Linked DNA regions of Homo sapiens: region 1 is linked to region 2. Evidence: fine-mapped expression QTL. A gene starts in region 2. The other region holds a variant in brackets. All regions are shown on one strand. Distances are between the middles of the regions. Region 1 overlaps LINC01641 (long intergenic non-protein coding RNA 1641). Region 2 holds the start of CDC42BPA (CDC42 binding protein kinase alpha).

The links.
Region 1: its variant is fine-mapped to the expression of CDC42BPA in whole blood (TOPMed, PIP above 0.99).

The regions. Positions count from the first base shown.
Region 1 is chr1:227,413,649-227,416,560 of GRCh38, reverse strand. All of the region lies in intron 3 of LINC01641 (long intergenic non-protein coding RNA 1641), which reads right to left. It also overlaps the pseudogene NUCKS1P1. Among named protein-coding and RNA genes, the nearest start is that of LINC01641, 22 kb to the right of the region's middle. The variant G/A (reference allele first, on the strand shown) is at 1,639.
Region 2 is chr1:227,316,726-227,319,637 of GRCh38, reverse strand. It overlaps CDC42BPA (CDC42 binding protein kinase alpha), which reads left to right and starts at 1,146. Exons shown (of 37, transcript NM_001394014.1): 1 at 1,146-2,633. The coding sequence starts at 2,456. LOC124904531 (a long non-coding RNA gene) reads right to left here and starts at 1,046. Exons shown (of 2, transcript XR_007066911.1): 1 at 640-1,046; 2 at 1-524.

The DNA of each region.
Region 1 (2,912 bases), 97 kb before region 2:
CCAGATTCCATTGTGCGACGTTATTGCTTCTTCAACCTAGATACGTGGATACTTTAACCCAAGCTCAAACCCACAAGATTTGAACTCCTAACCTTTAAAACGCAAGGCAGCTACTTTGACCACCAGGCATCCTGGTTCTTGTTTACCAGGACTGGGAGTTCTCCTCAGACAGAGCCCCATTTATTCCATGACCCTAGCAGAATAACACTAAGAAACCCAAAAGCATATCCATTTTGAAATAGTGTCTGTGGCACCAAAAGGATTCTGGAGCTCTGAATCAGCCCCTTACCTCATGGCAAAATTTACAGGCTTGCAGAGTTAAATAAAAATCAGATTGGAATGCAGGGACTTCTATTTTTCTGTAATGACATGTTGTGAGGAGAAGGAGGGCAATTTTCTTGGACATTCCTCTAAAACCAGTGCACTTGCAGTGGCTTTTTTGTTGTTGTTGTTGTTTACAAAACTATCCTAAACAGACCCAGGGCTCACTGCCATCTCCGGGTGCCAGGACTCTGGGCCACAGGGGCCATTTGTCCAGGGAATAGAATTAAAATCAATAATTATTCCTTTCACCTGGCACATGTGAGCCTCTTCTCAAAGCAGTCAGAGAGTGGACTTTAATATCTCATTCTTTCTCTGAAGTAATTTAATGATCACATAAGAAAAATGATTCTCTGAAAATATAATCTTAGAATTTGGCTCCACCTCCAAGTTGAAAGAATTTTGTAAGGAAAGAAAGAAAAAAACACTCAAGAAATATGTCTACTCCTCACGTCTGACTGTGAAAAGTCTATATACCATGACCTGAAAAGGAAAGATAAACATAGTCCATGAAATTCTGTGGCAAAAAGGAATGAAAATGTGCTTAAGAAAAAAAAACCCAAAAACTGGAATTGTATTCTCTGCAGGTTTAAAGGCAACCTTTGCCAAAATCTGCTTTCTGGAAACTTTCCTCTAGACCTGGCTGCTACCATCAGCCTTGGCTGCGGGAGAGAGACCTGGAAGACTGTGGTTTGGAATATGTGAATGTTAAAATCAGACATTGTTCCCTTTTCTTTACAACAACAAGTCTTTGGTTTTGGCTATATACATGCTGGGTTTTCCGGTACCACGTTGTTCCTTTTTTCACTAGAGGTCAGAACTATTGAAGGGATCTTGATATTTTTCAGTTTGTTTCCTTTTTGACCACTGCTCTCCCCTTTCTTACAATGCCCTTGAGAAGCTAATGGGCTCTGTTTCCATGCTGAAATGAAGAAATGATCGAGCGAGTATGAAATGACGCGTGGAAGGCCACACAGCAAGTTGGAAGAAGATTCTGGATGAGAAACTTGAAATTTCCATGTCCTCCCCAGGTCTGTAAATCCAGTCCACTAAGCTAAGTTTTTCTAAGACATTGAGGCCCAAAGATGCATGCTGAACCACAGGCATGAGGTGTGACTTCAAACCAAGAGTCAACACTATGCGGAGTGACTAGATACAGAATGCTCTAATAAAATAATTATCACCTGCTGGGGCAGAGTTAAGCTTAAAATCACCTTACCGTGGATTATTCAAATTTATAGCATATTACATATAATTCAGATAGAACAGGGTAATGTTCAACCTAATCCCATCTATGAAAAGATTGTGGAACAAACA[G/A]CAAATATTAAATATAGGAACTGTGTCTCAGTTACATGTCATATGTCACATACATAAGAACAAGAATAGGAAATAACAGAATCAATTATTATTGCATCACGGGGAACTATATTTTCAAGAAGCACCTACTGAACTTGGAAGTCATTCTCTTTAACAAAAAATGGTAGTCCATGTAACCTAACATATTACACAGCAGCAGCAGCAACTGAAAAAGCTGTTCCCAGGCAAAGGGCACATGCCAAAGTCATTTTTATAGGATCTTAAGCAGATCTTGCTCTGTTTCAGTGGAAGGTAGAATCATGCAAGAGGAAACTGGGAATGTGCAGGGCTAGAACCACAGAACATCACAAAGAGCCTTCTTAAAGGAGCAGTGGTGGGCTGAGTGATTGGGAATGCTCTGCAATTAAAGGCATACCTGGTTTAACTTTTTTTTTTTTTTTTAAGAGATGAGGCTGTCACTATGTTGCCCAGACTGTCTTGAACTCCTGGGCTCAAGTGATTCTCTCACCTTGGCCTCCCAAAGTGCTGGGGTGACAGGTATGAGCCACCATGCCCCAGCCTATCTTTGACATTTTTCTAACAGCATGTGCTCATTTCATGGTCTCTGTGTCACGTTTCTGTAATTCTCACAATATTTCAAACTTTTTCATCATTATTATTTCTGTTATACTGATCTGTGATCAGTGATCTCCAATGTTACTGTTGTAATTGTTTTGGGGAGTCATGGGCAGCACCCACATAAGAAGATGAACTTGATCAATAAATGTGTGTGCTCTGATTGCTCCACCAACCGGCTCTTCCCACTGACTGGCTGTTCCCCCATTTCTCTCCCTCTCCTCAGGGTCCTCCCTATTCCATGAGATACAACAGTATTAAAATTAGGTCAATTAATAACCCTACAGTGGCCTCTTAAGTGTTCAAGTAAAAGAGTTGCACATCTCTCACTTTATTTATTTATTTAATTTCTTTTGAGACGGAGCCTCACTCTGTTGCCCAGGGTGGAGTGCAGTAGCACCATCTTGGCTCCCTGCAACTTCTGCCTCCTGGTTCAAGTGATTCTCCTGCCTCAGCCTCCTGAATAGCTGGGATTACAGGCATGAGCCACCACACCTGCCTAATTTTTGTATTTTTAGTAGAGACAGGGTTTCACCATGTTGGCCAGGCTGGTCTTGAACTCCTGACCTCAGGTGATCCACCTGCCTCAGCCTCCCAAAGTACTGGGATTACAAGCGTGAGTCACCACGCCCTGCTCACTTTATTTAATTTATTTTTTG
Region 2 (2,912 bases):
AGGTGTGGGGAAGGAATATAAAATAATTGTATTTTAGAGAACGACCATAAAGGAGATGGCAATTTTGAGAGAAAGTAACAGAACTGCAATGACCTAGTTTTGTGGTGTTAATTTAAATGTGGCATCTTCCATGAGAATTTTATAAAGGGAGCTCTCCTAAAACCGAGATTCACAAAAACCTGGAAGGGCCCTACAGGGATCAGGTGCCCTAGCTATTCAGCGATTTGCCTTTGCTTCCCTAATTCCTGCATTGTGCCACTGGGTTACAAGTGTGTGTGCGCATGCACACAGGGGTGTAGGTTTGATGACAGTGGTGAACTGCCTTGACTGCCTTCACAGGCTGAATCCCCCGCAGGCAGTAACCATGGCTAGGGAAAAACAGGCAGCCGCGAGGACAGTTCCGGAGGAGACAACACCAGGCTCCCGTAGGGAAACTTTTGGGAATGGAGATGGGGGATTCCATCCTTTGCGTGCAGACCCAAGACTTCGATGGTAGCTCGGACAAGTCTGTCATTGTTTTTGTCCTGGGAAATGACACACGAAGTGCTGTAATTAGACACCTAAGAAACGATTACTCTGGAGTGTGCGCGAACCGAATCTGGGGGGCCGGTGGGGAGCAGGTAAGGGGCTGAAAGGCACCGTCTCCTCCAGCTCTGTCGGAAGCCTAAAGCCCTCTGCTTCTGGGCGCCCTTAACAAACGCGCCAGACAGGTGATGTCTCCGAGGACGAGCAGGAGCCCCCCTTCGCGATCTGCACCAGAAGCCTCGGGGAGCCGGGGCCACGGCGCGGCGGTGGCGCAGTTCCCAGCCTGCGCCCAGTCCCGCCGCAGCTCCCGGCGCGGCCCGGTCATCCCGCCTCCATATGCTCCGCCACCGCCGCCCGGGCCTCCCTCAGCCCTCCCGCAGCTCCGCATTCCACGCTGCGGCAGCCGCAGCCTCGCCGCCTAGGCAGTCCACACCCCTCCCCTCGGGCTGGCGCAGCCACTCGGGCCCCGAGCCCGCGCCCCCTTGGGGGCCTCCGCTGGGCGCGCCGGCCGGACCCCGCCCGGCTTGGCCGCCGGCTGGGGCTGAGGCTCGGGCAGGGCGGGGGCGGGGAGTGGAGGGCGTGTGCGCGCGCGTGTGCCGGGGCCGGGGGGCCAGGCCGCCATATTGGATCCAGACTCGTCCGCAAGCCTCCGCCTCTGTGCGGCGGGACTGGAGGAGCCTCGCTGAGCCCAGGGCGCGAGCGCGAGAGGAGAGGGAAGGCGGGGGAGGGCTGGAAGGGAGAGGAAGGGAGTGGTTGGGAGCCGGGCTGCCGCAGCCTCTAGTCTCCTCAGCCGCGGAAGCGACCCCTCCTCCTGCGCCGGGCCGCCTCCCTCCTCGCTGTGGAAAGATGCCCTTAGCCCAGGGGTGTGAAGAAGGGGGAGAAGTAGCTGCCAGAGCCGCCCGCGCCGCCGCCGCAGCTGCTGCTGCTTGTGTCCTTTGAATTCAGAGAAGCACCCCCCCGCCTGGGGCGTCGGGAGCCTCCGGCGCGGCGGCCCGGTGCGGGTGTCGGGGAGACCGGGCTCTCTGCCCGGCGCGGCGCGGCGCGGCTCGGCCCACGAGCGACCACCGACATGGAGTGGGCTCGGGCGGCCAAGTAGCCGCTTCTCCGGAGCCCGGTGCCAGTGCCGCCCGCAGCCCGCCTTCCACCCCCGGCCGCGCCGCCGGTCAGGCCCTAGGGTGAAGCCGGGAGGAAAATGAAGAGTTTTCACCGGAATCCGTTGAAAATAGGACTGACTGCAAAGCCTTAAAGAAAGAAGGACCTCGGGAGGAGAAACGAAAAGCCGCCTCCGGGCAAGACTTGGCGTGCTCCGAGCCGAGGGGCTGCTTCAGGGACCTCGCCCCCTCCCTTTCCCGCTGGAGAAATTGCCGCTGATGCATTATCCAAGTGGTGGTTGGGAGGATTTGCAGCAACATTTTTGGTTTTCCCTCCCCCTTCTATGCATTCTGTTTTTTTCCTCCCTTTTCTGTTTTTCTTCTTCCCGGGAAGTGAATTGCTGATGCAAATCGGACTTTATTCATTAATGATGCAACCGGATTCGTTTCAGGATTACGTTGCACGAGTTGAATTTTGAATGAAGGAGAAGAGTTTTTTTTTTTTTTTTTAAAGAAGTGTTGACTCTCTAGTTCGTTGTACTTTTAATTATTATTTTATTTAAATATACGACTTAATTGTATTCTTTTAAAAATGCATTAAGTATATATTTTATGGTAATTTACCCTCAAAATATATGTATATGGGTGAAATTGAAGACGCTTCAGTTAAGTGAGGTTACTGGTGTGTTGGATGTTTAATTCAGCACCAGCATTGCATGACAGTTGTTTGAATAACAAGTGGTTTATTTTTAAAACCATACCTTTTAAAATTTAGGTTCAGATAATAGTAAAAGTCATCATAATAATTTAAAGGAAAACCAGCAGAAATCGAAGCAAACATGTCTGGAGAAGTGCGTTTGAGGCAGTTGGAGCAGTTTATTTTGGACGGGCCCGCTCAGACCAATGGGCAGTGCTTCAGTGTGGAGACATTACTGGATATACTCATCTGCCTTTATGATGAATGCAATAATTCTCCATTGAGAAGAGAGAAGAACATTCTCGAATACCTAGAATGGGGTAAGTTTGTAATTTTTAAAGAAACTGTTAATCTTTAGCTGGTCATTATGATTTAATTGGTATAGAGAGTTATGAGTAAACTCTACTCCGTTCAAAGAAAAAATACAATAAAAAAACAGACACTAGTTATTCAAGATTTTCCGCTAGTTTTTGGTAAATATTTTCCCAGGAGTAGAATTGTGCTGCTCAATTGTTGCCTTGATTTAAGGCCTAGCTAATGTGGAACTTGGCTATGAAGAACTTATGTTTTTAGGTCAACAGTAAGAGATTTTAAATCAA